4 linked regions of the Homo sapiens genome follow. The protein of the gene in region 2 purifies or fractionates together with the protein of the main gene of each other region. This does not show direct contact. Each region holds a gene or a part of one and is shown on either strand. Other genes may lie near its edges.

What was found. Proteins that work in one complex are often made in the same cells at the same time.
Region 1: the proteins of GPR84 (region 2) and THADA purify together in Homo sapiens (affinity purification with mass spectrometry; one large-scale study listed by BioGRID and IntAct). This does not show direct contact.
Region 3: the proteins of GPR84 (region 2) and EI24 purify together in Homo sapiens (affinity purification with mass spectrometry; one large-scale study listed by BioGRID and IntAct). This does not show direct contact.
Region 4: the proteins of GPR84 (region 2) and DYM purify together in Homo sapiens (affinity purification with mass spectrometry; one large-scale study listed by BioGRID and IntAct). This does not show direct contact.

What each region holds. Positions count from the first base shown.
Region 1 is NC_000002.12:43,574,935-43,579,954, reverse strand, and holds part of THADA (tRNA (32-2'-O)-methyltransferase regulator THADA), read left to right. Parts: intron 1-1,347; coding exon 1,348-1,442; intron 1,443-2,712; coding exon 2,713-2,933; intron 2,934-4,927; coding exon 4,928-5,020. UniProt on the Homo sapiens protein: Together with methyltransferase FTSJ1, methylates the 2'-O-ribose of nucleotides at position 32 of the anticodon loop of substrate tRNAs.
Region 2 is NC_000012.12:54,360,425-54,365,780, reverse strand, and holds GPR84 (G-protein coupled receptor 84), read left to right. Parts: upstream 1-1,294; 5' UTR 1,295-1,388; intron 1,389-1,921; 5' UTR 1,922-1,929; coding exon 1,930-3,120; 3' UTR 3,121-3,336; downstream 3,337-5,356. UniProt on the Homo sapiens protein: G protein-coupled receptor that responds endogenously to dietary fatty acids or nutrient, specifically medium-chain free fatty acid (FFA) with carbon chain lengths of C9 to C14.
Region 3 is NC_000011.10:125,578,561-125,582,934, forward strand, and holds part of EI24 (etoposide-induced protein 2.4 homolog), read left to right. Parts: intron 1-388; coding exon 389-508; intron 509-1,532; coding exon 1,533-1,644; intron 1,645-2,650; coding exon 2,651-2,762; intron 2,763-3,785; coding exon 3,786-3,860; intron 3,861-4,374. UniProt on the Homo sapiens protein: Acts as a negative growth regulator via p53-mediated apoptosis pathway. Regulates formation of degradative autolysosomes during autophagy.
Region 4 is NC_000018.10:49,037,042-49,042,061, reverse strand, and holds part of DYM (dymeclin), read left to right. Parts: 3' UTR 1-5,020. UniProt on the Homo sapiens protein: Necessary for correct organization of Golgi apparatus. Involved in bone development.

The DNA.
Region 1 (5,020 bases), on a different chromosome or scaffold from region 2:
CATAATCAGTAAAGTGTTTAGCTGCAAGTAACTGAAAACCAAACCTCCTTTCCCACATAACAAGTTCAGAGGCAGGTCATCCAGAACTGGTATAGGCAGTGTACGACCCACACATTTTCTGCTTTTCTGCTGTGCCATCTTCAGCAGGTTGGTTTTCACCCACGTTTGTTGCCTCGTGGTTGCCATATGACTGCTGTAGCTCCAGATGTGTCTTTATTCAAGGCAGGAAGAAGGAAGGCCAGTTGCGTCTTTACTTTTGATCAGGATACTCAAGTGACTGGCTTAAATCCAACTGGCCTGAACCCTCTTATATGCCTACCTTTAGTTGCAAAGAAGATTGAAGAAGCAAGTATCCTGCTTTTGGCTGGGCATGTGGCTTCCCCAATCAAAGTCACAGTTTTCTTATCAGTGATGAAGGGCAGAGTGGATATTTAGTACGTAGTTTATGATGTCATAAAGAAGTGTTACTTCTTTCCCCAGGTTGAACAACTCACCATGGTATTAGAGGCTAATAGAGATAAAACAAAAAGAAGATACCAAGTCAAAACTGTTTGGTTGCTATGGGTACAGTGTCAGTGCTAGCAAAGTTTGTAATTAGCACTTACCTACATTCTTTATACAAGCCCTGAAATCTCTTTTTGAAAAAGTCTGTGTATATGGTGATTGGGATACAGAGGCATTGGTGGAGGGGAGGGGACAGGTGGTGTTGCTGTTAGGTGTTTTGGGAAGCAATAGTTGGCGAGGAAGAAAGTGTATGTTAGAGGAGAGAGGAAGGAATCACGTTTATTGAGTATCTATATGCTGGGCTTAAAAGCCTTTATATTCAGCCGGGCACAGTGGCTCATGCCTGTAATCCCAACACTTTGGGAGGCCGAGGCAGGCGGATCACAAGGTCAAGAGATCGAGACCATCATGGCCAACGTGGTGAAACCCCATCTCTACTAAAGATACAAAAATTAGCTGGGTGTGGTGGCACGCGCCTGTAGTCCCAGCTACTTGGGAGGCTGAGGCAGGAGAATCGCCTGAACCCAGGAAGTAGAGGTTGCAGTGAGCTGAGGTCACGCTACTACACTCCAGCCTGTCAACAGAGTGAGACTCCTTCTAAAAAGCGTTTATGTTCATTATTCATCTAAACCTGACACTGCCTCAGTTAAGAGTTATCCCATTTTACCCAAGAGAAAAGAGAGTCTGTGGGATGTTAAATAACTTAGGTAAGACCTATTCACCCAGGAAGTGGTCAGACTAGAAATTGTACCCAGGCCTATCTGGCTGCTCAGCATCTGCTCTTTCCACTCTACCAGAATATTCATTATTTAACACAAGCTTCTCTCCTTTTTTGCCAAATAGATGATCTGTTACAGACTGTACAGAGCACATCTGGATTAGCTATTATTCTTTTTATTAAGACTATGTTTCACCCGTCTGAAAAGATTCCTCATTTGGTAAGTGCATCTCCTTTTTAGAATTGTACTTTATTGAGAGTTAGGGTATGTTTAAAAAATAATTTTGGCTTGGTGCAGTGGCTCACACTTATAATCCCAACACTTTGGGAGGCCAGGGCAGGAGGGTCACTTGAGGCCAGGAGTTTGAGATTAGCCTGGGGAGTTTAGCTAGACCTTGTCTCTACAAAAAAAAAAAAAGAAAATTTGCTGGGTATGGTGGTGCACAGCTGTAGTCCCAGCTCTTTGAGAGGTTGAGGTAGGAGGATCGCTTGAGCCTAGGAGTTTAAGGCTGCAGTGAGATAAGATTGCACCAGTCTGGGCAACAGAGTGAGACCTTGTCTCTTAAAAAAAAAAAAAATTAAAAATATTTTTAAAGAAGTGAATTAAAATAATTTTTTTTTGCATTGTCTGGTTCCTTCTGATGACCTTTTTCTGTTATAATAAGAGACAATTCCAAAAATTCAGATAAAGCAACAATAACAAAAAGACAATAACAGTCACCTGTAAGTCCATCTCACAAAGATAATCACTATAAACATTTTTGATGTACATTCTTTTAGTTTCTTTTTAGTGCTGTTTGTTCAGTGTCATCTCTCATTAGTATCTTAAAAGATATTTTTAATGTTAAAATTATGCATATCAATGTATAGATATATACACAGTAATAACTTTTCTGATAAATGTATTCTTTATTGAGAATAACCCAAATCATGTGCTTTAGACAGGAAGCATGCTAGATAGAGTCAATTGTTCAGTAAATTTGCTTCTTACAGAAAGTATAATTTGATAATTTAGGCCACAATCCTTGTATTTTTTACTAGTAGATTTCTTTTTTTGCTTGCTATATTGTATGGAAACTTATTTTATCTTTTTACCTGACCTTAGAAAAATATATTATGAGATCACACAAAGTAATTATCTTTGGATAAGTCGAAGATGTTTATTTCTCAAATCACCTCTAAAAGCATTTGTTTAAAAAAAAAATACATACCAAAAAAAAAAAGCAGTTGTTAAGCTTATCCACCTGCAGGTGGCGATGTGTTGTGCTCTGCCAGTACATTCCAACCAGCAAAATCATTCTCGTACTTGATGTAATTTTTTTCCTTTAATACTAATACAATAATCATGACATTTGTGGGTATTTTATCTTTGGATTTAGTCATTTTTCCTAGGATTTTTCAGGGGAAAGAGATGTTTGGGTTTGTATTTTGAAATATCTCTGAAAAGTTTTAAAAGCTTTATGTGTGTTAGCTCTGCTATATTTTTCCAGATTAGCAGTGTGCTGCTTCGTTCAGTGGACTGCACCAGTGTCCCCGAGTGGTTTATGAGCAGCTGCAGGAGCCTCTGTTGTGGTGACATCTCTCAGTCAGCTGTCTTATTCCTCTGTCAGGGGACACTTGCCATGTTGGACTGGCAGAACGGAAGCATGGGTCGGAGTGGGGAGGCCCTGCTCTTGGATACTGCACATGTTTTGTTCACCTTGAGTTCACAGTGAGTTTTGATGCTATCGTCTCATATTTTGTTTCACTTGTAAGACATTTAGAAGATGCAGTCCAAAAGCTGGAGTGGCTTGTGCCTCTAATCCCAGCTACCCTCCCAGTAGGCTGAGGCAAGAGGATCACTTGAGGCCAGGAGTTCAAAACCAGCCTTGGTGACATAGTGAGACTGTGTCTGTACAAAACTTTTAAAACTTAGCTGGGTGTGGTGGCATGCGCCTGTAGTCTCAGCTACGTGGGAGGCTGAGGTGAGAACATTGCTTGAGCCCAGGAGGCCGAGGATGCAGTGAGATATGATTGTGCCACTGCACTCAAGCCTGGGCGACAGAGTGAGATCCTGTCTTAAAAAAATAAATAAATAAAATTATTGCTGCAGGTTAGCCTGTAAAGAACATTTCTAAAATTAATTTTTAACATTTTCAATGTTATCGTTTTTAAAAACTATAAAAATTTTTATATGTATAGTGTTTTAGAATTTATAAAGAACTTCAACATAGGTAATCTAATGTGATCCTCAAATGGCTACTATATAGGATAAGAAATCTAATTTGTTGAATGGGCAAAGGGAGGCTTAGAAAAGTAAATGCTTACCTGAGACCATATTGCTAATAAGAACCTGAAACAGCAATCTTAGAAGGTCTTCTGACTTCATGGGGCTGTATTTTGTATTTTTGTGGTGTTTTTGCCATAATGGCTGAAAGTGATCATGTATATGAAATGTCGAAACATATATACAGCTTGATAATACTGAACATATGAATAAAGGAGGAAAACTAAAATAATTTTTTACATATTTGAGCTATATTATGCAATTCATAAATTTGAAGTGTACAATTCAGTTTATTAGTTTATTCACAGAGTTGTACAACCACCAGCATTTCTAAAATTAATTTTTAATATTCTCTTTGCTATATTTTTTCTTTAAAAATTTTTTTCCTGAAATTTGTTTTTAGCATCATTTTTTAAAACTATAAAAGTTTCTACATGTGTAGTGCTTTAGAATTTATGAAGCACTTTAACATAGGTAATCTAAAGTGATCCTTATCAACATTTCTGAAATGAAGTTTTAACATCTTAAAAGTTAATTCAAACAACTTTAGAATATTTTTATCACAGAGAAGCCCCATTCCCCCAACCATCTCCAACACTTGGCTTTCCTTATCTTTTAAATTACATGTGTAGGCCGGGCATGGTGGCTCAAGCCTGTAATCCCAGGCTTGCAGATCTCAGGCAGGTGGATCACTTGAGGTCAGGAGTTCAAGACCAGCCTGGTCAACATGGTGAAACCCTGTCTCTACTAAAAATACAAAAAATTATCTAGGCATGGGGGCATGCGCCTGTAATCCCAGCTACTGAGGCGGCTGAGGCAGGAGAATCGCTTGAACCTGGGAGGCAGGGGTTGCAGTGAGCCGAGATCGCACCACTGCACTCCAGCCTGGGTGACAGCAAGACCCTGTCTCAAATAAATAAATAAATAAATAACTTGTGTAATCATCACAGTCAAGGTAGTGAATATTTCCATCATCCCCCAAATTTCCCTATGTCCCTTCCTGGACTATTATTATTTTTGAGACAAAGTCTCGCTTTGTCACCCAGGCTGGAGTGTAGTGGCATGAGCACAGCTCATTGCAGTCTCACTCCTGAGCTCAAGCAATCCTCCCACCTCAGCTTCCCAAGTAGCTGGGACTGTAGGTGTGTGTCACCACACCCAGCTAAATTTTTAAATTTTTTATAGAGATGGGGTTTCACTATATTGCCTAGGCTGATCTTGAACTGCTTTCTGGATTATTTTTTACAAGGTAAAAAGAATCATATACAAATTTGAGATCTGTTTTGGCTTTACTTGTAGTTTTTTGTTCTTGTAAATTTAATAATTGAAATTTGTGGTCATTCTGTGTATTTAATATTTTTAAAGTCTAAATTGTTATAAAATGAAATTTCTTTTACTAATCAGTTTACAATAATGGCTCATGGCTCATTTTTCTTCAGGATTAAAGAGCCAACGCTGGAAATGTTTCTGTCTAGAATCTTAGCATCCTGGACTAATTCAGCCATACAAGTCCTTGAATCAAGTTCCCCGAG
Region 2 (5,356 bases):
CCAGGCCTATATAGTATTTTAAAGCAAGCCTCAGCAAACTTTTTCTCAAAGGGCCTGATTATAAATATTTTAAACTGTGTTAATCAAGAGATAAAACTGAGGATATTACATAGGCACTTATATAACAATTTAAAATATAACCATTTTTATTTTACTTACTTATTTATTTATTATTTTATTTTTTGAGACGGAGTCTTGCTCTGTCATCCAGGCTGGAGTGCAGTGGTGCAATGTGATCTTGGCTAACTGCAAGCAACCTCCGCCTCCCGGGTTCAAGCGATTCTCTTGCCTCAGCCTCCCTAGTAGCTGGGATTACAGGCGCACCCATCACGCCTGGCTAATTTTTGTATTTTTAGTAGAGACGGGGTTTTACCATGTTGGCCAGGCTGGTCTCGAACTCCTGACCTCAAGTGATCTGCCCTCCTTGGCCTCCCAAAATGTTGGGATAATGGGCGTGAGCCACTGCACCTGGCCTAAAATATAACCATTTTTAAATGGAAAAAAAACATGATTGGGTCACAGGCTATACAAAAACAGCAGACTAGATTTGGCCCATAGGGTGAAGTTTACTCACCCTTGCTCTGGAGAATCGATTAAGCATTTGCATATTTATGTATCTGTCTCCCCTAGTAGACTATGCACAAGGCCATATATCAGACGTTCTTGTATCCCCAGTGTCTAGATCAGAGTCTGGTGTATAGTAGGCACTCAGTACTAAGTTGTTGGGTAAATGGATAAATGAATGATTGAACAGGACCCTGATCCCTTGAGGAGAATGAAACCAGAATTCTGGATGCCTCATTCCCCACTTTTCTTCATCTGACTTGGTTTCTCAAATGTGCTAGGGTGTCACATGGGTCCCTCTGACTTGAACCATGTCTAAGCCGTGGAGACAAGAAAGGTAGTGCTCCTCTGAAACAAACCCAAGGCTTCTGGGGGTACCTAAAGTTGCTCCTGGAACTTGGTCTTATCTTTTGGCCCTTTGAGGAGTGGCCCAAATGTTCTGATGCTCTGACTCCGTGCCCTAGCAATTCTTGGCAATGATCTTACAGATGAGTTCTGCCATGCAAAGAGGGGAAGAAAACAGAGTTTGGGTTTCAGGAAGGAGAAAGGAAGAGTGAAACCACTCTGAGGTAAGTAGCGGGGGACTTTCAACAGAGAAGCCTAGATTTCACTAGCCGAAGCAAAATGAGTAGGACCGGAGGTGGTGAAGGAAGTGGCTGGGATTGGGTAATGGGGGAGTTTCTTATTCTTTCAGTGGACTATAATAGGATACATAAGAGCAGGATGTCTCCTGCTTGAAGCCTAACTGTCCACCAGAAAGGACTGCTCTTTGGGTGAGTTGAACTTCTTCCATTATAGAAAGAATTGAAGGCTGAGAAACTCAGGTAAGCACTTTTGTTGTGGGTATACTTTTACCTTCTTGGTCTCCTCATCTCCCAGGTGGTAACAAACAGAAATGACTAAAGCCTATATGTGTGTGTAGTGGAAAGGAGCAGAGGGAACTGAATACAGAGAGGATCCTGAATACACGATGCTGAATAGAGAGAGGGGACTCCTGGGGGTCTTTGGGGATGGGGAAGGAATTAAAAAAGTTGGAGGGCACTGGGTTTACTGAGAGCAGCGGGATGGATATAGAAGAGGACTGAGGTTTGGAGCAGAATAAGACTAAGATATTTAGGCAAGAGATATTTAGATAAAAACTTGGGGAAATATTTGAGAATGGGAAAGGACTAAGAGAACCTAAGGAGAGAGTTAGGGATCTTGAGATGAAGAGGCCTGGGAATGGTTCAGGAGGATACTGAATTAAGGTGAGGTCCAGGAACAGTTTAGATGTCCAGGGTCCCAGAACTGTTCAAGAGATCTAAGTTGAATGCTAGGTTCTGATTCCCTCTTCCTCTTCCACCCTCTGCCTCTTTAGCCTCTATCATGTGGAACAGCTCTGACGCCAACTTCTCCTGCTACCATGAGTCTGTGCTGGGCTATCGTTATGTTGCAGTTAGCTGGGGGGTGGTGGTGGCTGTGACAGGCACCGTGGGCAATGTGCTCACCCTACTGGCCTTGGCCATCCAGCCCAAGCTCCGTACCCGATTCAACCTGCTCATAGCCAACCTCACACTGGCTGATCTCCTCTACTGCACGCTCCTTCAGCCCTTCTCTGTGGACACCTACCTCCACCTGCACTGGCGCACCGGTGCCACCTTCTGCAGGGTATTTGGGCTCCTCCTTTTTGCCTCCAATTCTGTCTCCATCCTGACCCTCTGCCTCATCGCACTGGGACGCTACCTCCTCATTGCCCACCCTAAGCTTTTTCCCCAAGTTTTCAGTGCCAAGGGGATAGTGCTGGCACTGGTGAGCACCTGGGTTGTGGGCGTGGCCAGCTTTGCTCCCCTCTGGCCTATTTATATCCTGGTACCTGTAGTCTGCACCTGCAGCTTTGACCGCATCCGAGGCCGGCCTTACACCACCATCCTCATGGGCATCTACTTTGTGCTTGGGCTCAGCAGTGTTGGCATCTTCTATTGCCTCATCCACCGCCAGGTCAAACGAGCAGCACAGGCACTGGACCAATACAAGTTGCGACAGGCAAGCATCCACTCCAACCATGTGGCCAGGACTGATGAGGCCATGCCTGGTCGTTTCCAGGAGCTGGACAGCAGGTTAGCATCAGGAGGACCCAGTGAGGGGATTTCATCTGAGCCAGTCAGTGCTGCCACCACCCAGACCCTGGAAGGGGACTCATCAGAAGTGGGAGACCAGATCAACAGCAAGAGAGCTAAGCAGATGGCAGAGAAAAGCCCTCCAGAAGCATCTGCCAAAGCCCAGCCAATTAAAGGAGCCAGAAGAGCTCCGGATTCTTCATCGGAATTTGGGAAGGTGACTCGAATGTGTTTTGCTGTGTTCCTCTGCTTTGCCCTGAGCTACATCCCCTTCTTGCTGCTCAACATTCTGGATGCCAGAGTCCAGGCTCCCCGGGTGGTCCACATGCTTGCTGCCAACCTCACCTGGCTCAATGGTTGCATCAACCCTGTGCTCTATGCAGCCATGAACCGCCAATTCCGCCAAGCATATGGCTCCATTTTAAAAAGAGGGCCCCGGAGTTTCCATAGGCTCCATTAGAACTGTGACCCTAGTCACCAGAATTCAGGACTGTCTCCTCCAGGACCAAAGTGGCCAGGTAATAGGAGAATAGGTGAAATAACACATGTGGGCATTTTCACAACAATCTCTCCCCAGCCTCCCAAATCAAGTCTCTCCATCACTTGATCAATGTTTCAGCCCTAGACTGCCCAAGGAGTATTATTAATTATTAATAAATGAATTCTGTGCTTTTAATGCTCAGGTGTGGTCTCTGGGGAAGAAGGAAACAGGTCACGGTTAGGCTCAGGGGCCAGGCTAGGAGGAGACCATACTATTCCATCCCTCCTGCATGACGAAATCCTGTCACCATGTGCATGCTCACACATATCCCTAAAGCACCTGTGGCCACCAGGAGCTGGAACCTAATACCTAAGGATTCAGGGGTACCTAGGTCAAAGCAGGAGCAGGAAGCAGCTGGCCTGGGACATAGCCTTTAGAAGAGGGGTTTCTAGGTAATAAAACATGTGAGGTGATTTAAGAGGATTAGCCTGCCTTTTTGTTTAATTTCCCAGAAATGGCCTCTGCCCCTAACCACTGCTGCCAGGATCCGCCATCCCTACAAACAAGTTTATTCAGCTCAAAAAAGTTTTATAATCCAGCTTTGATATCTACTCCAGTGGGACCAGTCCCCCAGCCCTCACTCTGTGCGAAGGGAATGGTCATGGAGGAGGACTCCTTGGTCTGTAGAAATGGAACTGAGCTTAGTTAAGGCAAAGGCAGAAAAAGGTTCCAGCTGCCCTGGCAGGGTCCTGCCCATGGGGCTAATTCACCTGAGTCCCAGGCCCTCAGTTGCCTTGCATTTGTCATCTGGACTTATGAAAGCAAGAGAACAGGCCTGGTGGGGTGTCTCACACTTGTAATCCTAGCACTTTGGGAGGCGGAGGTGGGCAGATCACCTAAGGTCAGGAGTTCAAGACCAGCCTGGCCAACGTGGTGAAACCCCGTCTCTACTAAAATACAAAAATTATGGGCCAGGCACGGTGGCTCATGCCTGTAATCCCAGCACTGTGGGAGGCAGAGGCAGGTGGATCACCTGAGGTCAGGAGTTCGAGACCAGCCTGACCAACACAGAGAAACCCCATCTCTACTAAAAATAGAAAAATTAGCCCGGCATGGTGGCGCATGCCTGTGATCCCAGCTACTCAGAAGGCTGAGGCAGGAGAATCGCTTGAACCCGGGAGGTGGAGGGTACAGTGAGCCGAGATCACGCCATTGCACTCCAGCCTGGGCAACAAGAGTGAAACTCTGTCTCAAAATAATAATAATAAATAAATAAAATAAAATACAAAAATTAACCGGGCATGATGGCGGGTGCCTGTAATCCCAGCTACTCGGGAGGCTGAGACGGGAGAATCGCTTGAACCCAGGAGACAGTGGTTGCAGTGAACCGAGATCGCGCCACTGCACTCCGGCCTGGGTGGCTGAGCGAGACTCTGTCTCAAACAAAAAAAAAAGAAAAGAAAAAGAAAGCAGGAAAACAAAGACTCTAGTTAAAAGGGCTCAGGGGCCAGGCTAGGAAACCATACCATTCCTTCCCTCCAGAATGACCAAATCCTGTCACAATGTGCGTGCTTACACACATCCTTAAAGCACCTGTGGCCACCAGGTGACGCTGGTTCTCTGCGTTTCCTTTCTGGCTTCCCAGTTGAGGACACAAGGCAGGACTGGGAATCCAGAGACCCCTGACCAGGGAGTAGAGACCCAGGGATCTTCACCCTCCCTTTCCCCCAAAGCTTAGGAAGAAAAGTGAAGAATGAGACATTTATTATTCATGAGATATTCCTGTCTACTTGAGGTGGGGCTGGGGGAAGTAGCGGTGTGGGCACTGGGGTGGCACTGGGGATGGAATGTGAGTCATGCTGACCTTAATGCTCTGGCTGCATGTTGTCCCCTCCCTCCCCCAAGTCCATGGTTTGAGAGAACAAAGTAAAATCTGAAGATATTAAGGGCAGAAAGAACCACAGTTGGGGTGGACAGATTGATACCCTCACATGCAACACACTTCTAGGGTCCAGGAATCCTGACTCCTAATATGGAACATGCACTTTTGGTTGTCCTCCTTCCACGAAAGTCACAGGAGCCTAAACCAAATCAAGCTGGGGCTACTAAGGCAGGGGTCCAGGTAAACTGTTGGACCAATGAAGAACAACAGTTTATGGGTGTAGAGACAAAGGTTTCAGTCAAGGCTCTCTCATAGTTAGCTCTCGGAACTTGA
Region 3 (4,374 bases), on a different chromosome or scaffold from region 2:
GTTCAAGCAATTCTCCTGCTTCAGCCTTCCAAGTAGCTGGGACTACAGGCACGTGCCACCATGCCTGGCTAATTTTTTTTGTATTTTTATTAGTGACAGGGTTTCACCATGTTGGCCAGGCTGGTCTCAAACTCCTGACCTGCTGATCTGCCTGCCTCGGCCTCCCAAAGTGCTGGGATTATAGGCGTGAGCCACGGCATAAGGCAGCAATCCTCCTACCTTAGCCTCCTGAGTAGCTGGGACTATAGGCACATGCCATCGTGCCCAGCTTATTTTTAAATAAGCCTTTTCTTAACTGGCAGCTCTAGTGGCGGACTAGTGGCCTTAGCTTTGGGGATGTATATCAAGGCCATTTAATTCATGTTTTGGTACACTTTCTCTGTTACAGGATATAGCTGACCTGGCATTTGAGGTATCAGGGAGGAAGCCTCACCCATTCCCTAGTGTCAGCAAAATAATTGCTGACATGCTCTTCAACCTTTTGCTGCAGGCTCTTTTCCTCATTCAGGTGAGACTGACCTTCTGGGCATATGGGCAGCTTTATTAAAAAGAAAAACTGTTTCACTAGAGAGAACTTCACAAAGACAGAGTATTATATTTATACAGAGTATTATATATATGCTGGTGGGAGGTAATGATTTTTAAATCTTTTTTTCCCCACGGAAATGAGAATTTTAAAATTACATTATAAAATTATAAGAAACATGAATTTACCTGCTTTTTTCTGCTACTCTGGTTATTCTCCAGTCCTGCCAGGTGGAAACTTTTTTTCTTTTTATAGTTATGCCTAATTTTTTTTTTTTTTTAAAGAGACAGACGGGTCGGCTGGGCGCAGTAGTTCATGCCTGTGATCCCAGCACTTTGGGAGGCCGAGGTGGGCGGATCACCTAAGGTCAGGCATTTGAGACCAGCCTGGCCAACATGGTGAAACCCCATCTCTACTAAAAATACAAAAATTAGCTGCGCGTGGTGGCAACATGCTTGTAATCCCAGCTACTCGGGAAGCTGAGGCAGGAGAATCGCTTGAACCCAGGAGGCAGAGATTGTAGTGAGCCGAGATCGCGCCATTGCACTCCAGCCTGGGCGACAAGAGCAAAACTGTCTCAAAAATAAATAAATAAATAAAAGACAGGGTCTTATTTTGCCACCTAGGCTGGAGTACAGTGGCACAATCATACCTCACTGCAGCCTCAAACTCTGGGCTCAAGCAATCCTCCTGCCTTAGCCTCCTGAGTAGCTGGGACTACAGGCACATGCCATCATGCTCATTTTAAAAATCTTGTTGTAGAGACAGGGTCTCAGTATGTTGCCCAGTCTGGTCTTTAACTCTTGGCCTCAAGAGATCCTCCCGCCTCATCCTCCCAAACTGTTGGGATTACAGGAATGAGTCACTGTGCCCACCCTGCACTCGGCCTTTTAGAAACTTGAGAAGCAGCTAGGAAGCTATCTCAGACAGTGATTGGAGAGTGACAGGTGAATGGTGCTAGGTTTCCGAGGCTTTGGGATTAAGATTTTCCATATTTGTTCTTCAGGGAATGTTTGTGAGTCTCTTTCCCATCCATCTTGTCGGTCAGCTGGTTAGTCTCCTGCATATGTCCCTTCTCTACTCACTGTACTGCTTTGAATATCGTTGGTTCAATAAAGGTAAGTCCATCTAAAGAAATCCAGAAAATGGAGGCCCAGTTTGGAAATGCTACTGCTAAGCAGACTTCTTAAACTACTCATAGTCAGGCTTTTGGCAAACAATCCTTTGAGGGAAGCAGCCTCATTGGCAAGAGGGAGCTTACCTTCGGCTTAGTGGGTTTAACTCTCAACTTTGAGGCTGGGGGATGTGGTAGTATGGCATTATCTTTTTGGTGCTTAACATGGTATATCTCTGACTGGGTTGTAAGATGGCATAAATGAGCATGAGTTGCTCTAAATTAGAGAAGTCAAATTGATGTCAGCATCTGGATCCTTTTGGGGGTGTTTTAGAAAGACCTTCAGATATTTACCAGGGTGTGCGTGGTTGAAAGAGGTTAACTGATACTTACAGGATGGCATCCTTTTGATTTGCTATCTTGCTTAGTTCCAGACTAATCCTGACAAAGGATGCTGGTGCTGAAATTCTTAATTCACTTAGCCTGTCAGCTTTGAAATTACGATTATAGAATTCTAAGAAACTTTGCATGCTTTATATCAGATTTGTACACTTCTAATTTATATGCTGTAGCTCTGTTCTAAATCTGTACCTAGGCTGGGTGTGGTGGCTCACACCTGTAATCCCAACACTTTGGGAGGCCAAGGTGGGTGGATCGCCTGAGGTCAGGAGTTCAAGACCAGCTTGGCCAATATGGTGAAACCCTGTCTCTACTAAAAATACAAAAATTAGCTGGGCGAGGTGGCAGGCGCCTGTAATCCCAGCTACTTGGGAGGCTGAGGTGGGAGAATCGCTTGAAACCAGGAGGTGGAGGTTGCAGTGAGCTGAGATTGCACCACCGCACTCCCGCCTGGGCATCAAAGCAAGACTCCATCTCAAATAATAATAATAATAATAATAATAATAATAATAAAATCTGTACCTAAAACTCATGGTTTGTCTACCATAGTTACTTAGTCACTTGACTAAAAGGAAATATAATATCTAATTGTATTGGCTTTCTTGTTTTAGGAATTGAAATGCACCAGCGGTTGTCTAACATAGAAAGGAATTGGCCTTACTACTTTGGGTTTGGTTTGCCCTTGGCTTTTCTCACAGCAATGCAGTCCTCATATATTATCAGGTAATTTGGCTACAGGGATTTGAAGGAGACTAGTAAAAATAAAAATTCATGAAGTCAGTGCCTTTTGTTTGCTTCGTTCTGTTTCGCATTCTACATCATCATTTGTCCATCAGGAGACCTGCAGGGTATTTCTACATTTGTTAGCATGAAGATCTAGTCTGAATGTCCCTATATCCCATATTCTTTTTCTATGTTGCCTCCTGAAGCAATTATTCTTTTTTTTTTTTTTTTTTTTTTTTTTTGAGACAGAGTCTCACTCTGTCGCCCAGGCTAGAGTGCAGTGGTGTAATCTCAGCTCACTGCAACCTCCGCCTCCTGGGTTTAACTGATTCTCCTGCCTCAGCCTCCCAAGTAGCTGGGATTACAGGCGCCCACCATCACGCCTAGCTAATTTTTGTGTTTTTAGTAGAGATGGGGTTTCACTATGTTGGCCAGGCTGGTCTTGAACTCCTGACATCGAGTGATCCACCCACCTTGGCCTCCCAAAGTGCTCAGATTATAGACATGAGCTACCATGCCCAGCCCTGCAGCAATGTTAAACATGCCCAGTGCTTAGAAAAATCTTCTGTTCTTTTTGAAAGATGTGTTTGATGGGCTGGGTGCCACGGCTCACGCCTGTAATTCCAGCACTTTGGGAGGCTGAGGTGGGCAGATTACCTGAGGTCAGGAGTTCGAGACCAGCCTGGCCAACATGGTGAAATCCCATCTCTACTGAAAATACAAAAATTAGCCAGGCGTGGTGGCACACACCTGTAATCCCAGCTACTTGGGAGGCTGAGGCAGGAGAATCGCTTGAACACAGGAGGCGGAGGTTGCGGTGAGTTGAGATCTTGCCACTGTACTCCAGCCTGGGCGACAAGAACGCGACTCCATCTCAAAAAAAAAAATGTTTGAAATATTGAGGTTTCATCAAGCCATAATGTTTACACTGGAAGCAAAAGAACTTGGAGCTTCTAATATCTTCTTCAAAGTCATGTCTGTTATGAAGGTGACTAATTATTTCTTTTTTTTTTTTTTAAACAGTGGCTGCCTTTTCTCTATCCTCTTTCCTTTATTCATTATCAGCGCCAATGAAGCAAAGACCCCTGGCAAAGCATAGTAAGTATTAGCCAGTGATGAAATTTTTGCTGTGTAAAGGGTTGGGGCTGTAACACCAGTTATGTCAGTGAGGCTTTTTAAAAAAAAAAATTCTTACTGTAGGAAAATCTTAATATAAGGTTTAATGAGAGAGAAACACTTCTGGGATATAACCCAAACTTTTCTCCATGCATATATGCACATGAGTATATATATATTTCCAAAACCGATCCCATTATACATATTCAAGTAGAGGGCTGTATGACCTGGCCACATGAGTTTATTGATAACAGTAGTAAAATATACTTTAAAATGAGTTTTTAGCAATAATAATAGCATTCTAAAAGTTTTATTACTTCAAAGAAAAGCTCAATTCATCTTTGATCAATTTTGGTTAAGTCAGTGTGGATACTTGTATTAGAGACTTAGGTCTGCTTTGGGTTTTTGTATGCTCTTGCTATACAGCACAGCTCACTGTTTATCTTAAGAGGAATATTTGACTTTCTTTTGAAACTCTTCTTCCTGCAACCACAGA
Region 4 (5,020 bases), on a different chromosome or scaffold from region 2:
TACTATGTGGGGAAATAATTTGCAACTTTAATTTGTTTCCAAAGCATTTTGATTGGCTTCCTTTTCCTTTAAACCAAAAAATTGTTTAAATGTTTAAGGGTCATGTGGAACAGCTGAGCTTCTGGCAGGACCACAGAACTGTCCTCTGAGTCTGAGGGCTGGGCAGTGCCACAGGACAGTCCCTGGGCTGCAGGACTGTCAGTGCTTGTTGTGTGAGGAAATGAGGCCCTTCAAAAACCCAGTCATCTTGACAGAGGGCACACTCCCAAGGAAGGCCTGACTGGGGAATCATACAGCCTCTCCTCCAGGCCTCTGGGCTCACTGAGGTGCCCCCAGAACCCTGATTGCCCTCCCCTCTTTCCCTTTTCTCATTCATCACACAGTAGAAGCACTCACTAGCTAACAGCTCAGCTGGGGCAGCAGCCTCCATGGAGGCCTGCAAGTGATGCTCCCAGTCCTGGTTCCCGCTCAGGAGGGAGGCCCCACCACGTGCATCACTGCCTCAGCTCTGCAAAGTCACCAGAGGCTTCTTCCTGATTTTTGTGAAAGATTTATTATATGGCAATAAATCTGAATGATAAACTTTCATTATACTTGCATTAATTTTGAGTATTAGTTTGCTTAGAAATTTTTACACGAAGTAAAAATGTGTAATGATGCAACACAGGATCATCGTGTGTTCAGATGGAAATTGGCATCTGATTTTACCCCAGATCTGAAGCTGTTACTGCATTGTGTCATTTTATCAACAAAGACTTCTGCCACAATATTTACTTTTAAAAGAATTTGTCCCTTTCAATAGCATCTTCCCTATCAAGAGTTCAAGGCACTTTGCAGAAGAGCTTCAGATTTCTAACTCTAGTTCCCACAGTCACCCGTTGAGGCTGGTGTCATACAATCTATGAACAACAACCTTGCAGCAGGACTGCCACCATTCAGCAGTGCAGACAACACAGCTCAAGGACAAAGACAGAGAAAGGAAAGAAGAGAAGGTCCCTGAAGGTGAAGCATAGAAAGTACACTGCACACACAGTTCTCTCTGGAAGGAAAGCACAGGAGCTGGGAAGTAGACGATAGAAAGTGGAAAGGACACAGGACCAGCATCAGAACACTCAGCAACTTCCTAAGAGCTTGCTAAGGTACATCCAAGAGAAATATTTAGTGAGGGAAACTTTTAAGCACTGGAATTGTTAATATATCATACTTTAAGCAACATTTCGTCCTTTAGATTCCGGGAGCCAGGGTTTTGCATTGGGTGGTAGAGCTCTCTGCATAATTGAGTCACCCTGTGCTTTTTTGCAGAGCCATAAATTTTTGGCACTTGCTGATACTTCATAGGCTGGAGTCTCTGCAAGGTCAACCCTTTGGGTCTCTTAATTCTTTCCTAGGCACTATCCTGCAATATCAGTAGTTGCCACTTGATTTTAGGGACTGATTATTAGGCCTTCTGACTCCAAATTCAGAACAATTCCAGTGTCCTACATCACCTCCTGGAGTCAAAGAGGTCAGTTTCTATTCAGTGATGAAGAGCTAAGCTAGCTATGCATATGAAGAACTGAGAAGTAGATTATAACACACAATCCACAGCAAATAATGCATATTTATTTTGTATGAATTAAAGCATAAAATTTAATCTCATTAGCGTATAGCTATTCAGAGTTCCCACTCAAAGCAAGGGAGACTCACCAGTAGCCCCAAGACCCTTGGCCAGGTCATACTCAACCCCTAATCTAACTTCACAAGGCTGTCTAAATGTCAGCTACTCAGACACAGCCTCTGGCATTAGCAAAATCCCCCAGAGGAAAAGCAGCCCCATAGAACTGGACAAGTAATACTTAACTATCTTGTTGACTCTGGGGTCCTTCAAGCAAATTTTAAAAATATTTTTACCAGATTTCCAAGTTGTCCTTAGCTTGAGGGTTGGTCCTCCATTACTGTCATTGGACTATCCCTCATGGGTAGTGCAGTTCAACTTCTAAACCACCTCAGTACCTGAATGTGGTCCGAGGTGAAACCAGATTACTGATGCCTTCAGGTGCCCAATTGAAGCAAATGGCAAATTCTGTGGAGGAAGTAAACATAACCCAAGGCCTCAAATTATTTCTGCAGTGTTGCAATCAGAAATACCCAGGTATGGGAGAAGACCAGACAACATTAATTACTTGAATTAAAACCATTAGAGGAAAACACAGACAATAGAAATATCCAAACAGACTCCAGATAAAGTTGTCGCAGAATTTAAAACAGCTATGGTTACTGTGTTCAAAAAAATGAGACGCATGGTCAAGAATTTCAACAGAGAGTTAGAAACTGTAAAAGGCGCATTGGAAATTCTATAACTAAAGTACTGTAATGAGAAGAACAGTGAACAGGTTTAAGAGCAGATTAGAAATAACTGAAAAGAGAATGAGTAAGATGAAAAATTGAGGGTGAGGGGTGGGAGCAGGAATTATATAGTAAAAAAAACAGAACATGGAGAATAGAGGGTAAGAGACTTAAAGGGTACAGTGAGCATGTCTGACCTGCTCAGACATGCAGGGTAGTTGGCATCTCAAAAGAGTAGAAGAAAGGAATATTTAAACAAATGGCTGAGAACTTTTCCAAAACTCATGAAAGATATCACACCAAAAATTCAAGAATCCCTCCCACAAACTCCAAGTGGGATAAATAAAAACAACCCACACCTAGAAACATCATAGTAAAACTGTTGAAGACCAAAGAAAAATAATATTTTAGACCTGCTGGGGTGGGAGAGGGAATATAACCATTAAAGGAGCAATAATATTAGACTGACAGCTCCTTCTCAGCAGAAACAATGGAAGACAGTGAAATACTGCCTTTTATGGTTCTGAAAGAAAATGACTGCCAACCTAAAAATTTCTAATCAGGGAAAATATCCTGCAAAAATGAAGAGGATATGAAGACATTTTTAGAGAAACAGCTAGAAGAATTAATCAGCACGCCTACCCTAAAGGAAAATTTAAAAGGTGTTTTACAGGCAGAAGGAAAATAATCCCAAACGTAAGGACAGAGCCCTAGGAAAGATTGAAGAGCAATGAAAATGACACATAAATATTGACTACATAAAACAATAATTATGTCTTATGGAGTTTTAAATATATAGAGAAATAAAATGTATGAAAATGAAAGGATTTATGTGGGAATTTTAAGTGTTCTAAGACACTTGGCATCATCCAAGAAGAGAGTAAAAATTCATTTAATATTAGTCTTTGATAACTCATGTATGCATGATAATATTTGAGATATCAATAAAAGTGTATAGCTTTCCACATAATAAGAGAGAATTCGAATAATCAATTCAGTGGAAGATTTAAGAATTGCAAAAGAGTCTAAGAAAGAAGAAAAAGCAGAACAGGTGGAACAAATAGAAAGCAAGATATTTGTGATAAATCCATTATTACACTAAATGTAAATGGACTAATGCTCAAATGTTGACAAATATTGTCAGCCTTGTTTTAAACCATATGCTATTTACAAGAGACATTTTTAGAACATGAATTTAGAAATTTTGGAAGAAAAAGATGGAGAAATACATACCCAGCAAACAGTAACCATGAGGAAACTGGTGTAGATATATTTAAGTAAACTTTAAGGCAATAATTTTTTTAAGAAATAAAAGGGTCAATTCAATTACTAGAAAGATAATCTAAATTTATATGCACTTAAAATATAAACTCAAAATATGTAAAAGAAAATTTGATAGGAAATTTAGACAAATATGCAACCAGAGTGATATTTTAACATGCCTATTTTGTTAATTGGTAGAAAAACTAGCATACAAAAATCAAGTTATAAAAGATTTAAGCAATGAAATGAGCAAACCAAACGGATGTATGTAGGACACCAAACTCAATAACATACTTTTCAAACACAAATGGCACACACTCCAAAATACTGGGCTATAAAGGTTTCAACAGGCTAGGCACAGTGGCTCACATCTGTAATACTAGCACTTTGAGAGGCCAAGTCAGGAAGATCACTTGAGCCCAGGAGTTTGAGACCAGCTTGGGCAACATAATGAGGCCCCACCTTTACAAAAAATAAAAAAATTAACTGGGCATGGTGGCATGTGCCTATAGCCCCAGCTACTTGGGAAGCTGAGGCAGGAGAATCACTTGTGCCCAGGAGGTCGAGGCTGCAGTGAGCTATAATTGCACTACTGCACTCCAGCTTGGGTGACAGAGCAAGACCCTGTCTCAGAAAAAAAGTCTCAACAAACCTGAAAATACTTCAAATGAAATATGTTCTCTGACCATAATAGAATCAAGACTAATTATTTACAAAAAGATAATTTTATAATCCTCATATTTTTGGAAATAGATTTCCAGGTAACCCATCTGTCAGAATCTTAATGGAAATTTGAAATATTTTGAACTGATCATGAAAATACTACATATCAAAACAGAGAAAAAACTTGTGGGATGCAAATAAAACTATGCTTAGAAGACCTTTTAATTTTATTTTAAATTTAAAGAGTACCTGTTCAGGTTTGTTACAAGAATATATTGATGATGCTGAGGTTTGGGCTCCTAATGATCCTGTCACCCAGATAGTGAACATAGTACCCAATAGAAAGTTTTTCAGCACTTGCTTCCCTCTCTCCTTCCCTTCCTCCCTCGTTTTGGAGTCCCTAGTGTCTATTGTTCATATATATATATACACACACATATATATTTAAATGTTTATGTTAGAAAAGAAGAAAGGTTAAAAATCAATTAAGCAATTACCTCAAAAATTTTAAAAACAGCACATGAAACCCAAAAATAAGCCAAATTACTGATATAGAACACAAATATACAATAAAGGGAATCAAAGTCAAAAGTTGGTTATTTAAAAGGATTAAGAGGACTCATTGGCTGGGCATGTTGGCTCACATGTGTAATCCCAGCACTTTGGGAGTCACCTGAGGTCAGGAGTTCAAGACCAGCCTGGCCAACATGATGAAACCCCGTCTCTACTAAAAATACAAAAATTAGCTGGGCGTGGTGGTGGGCATCTG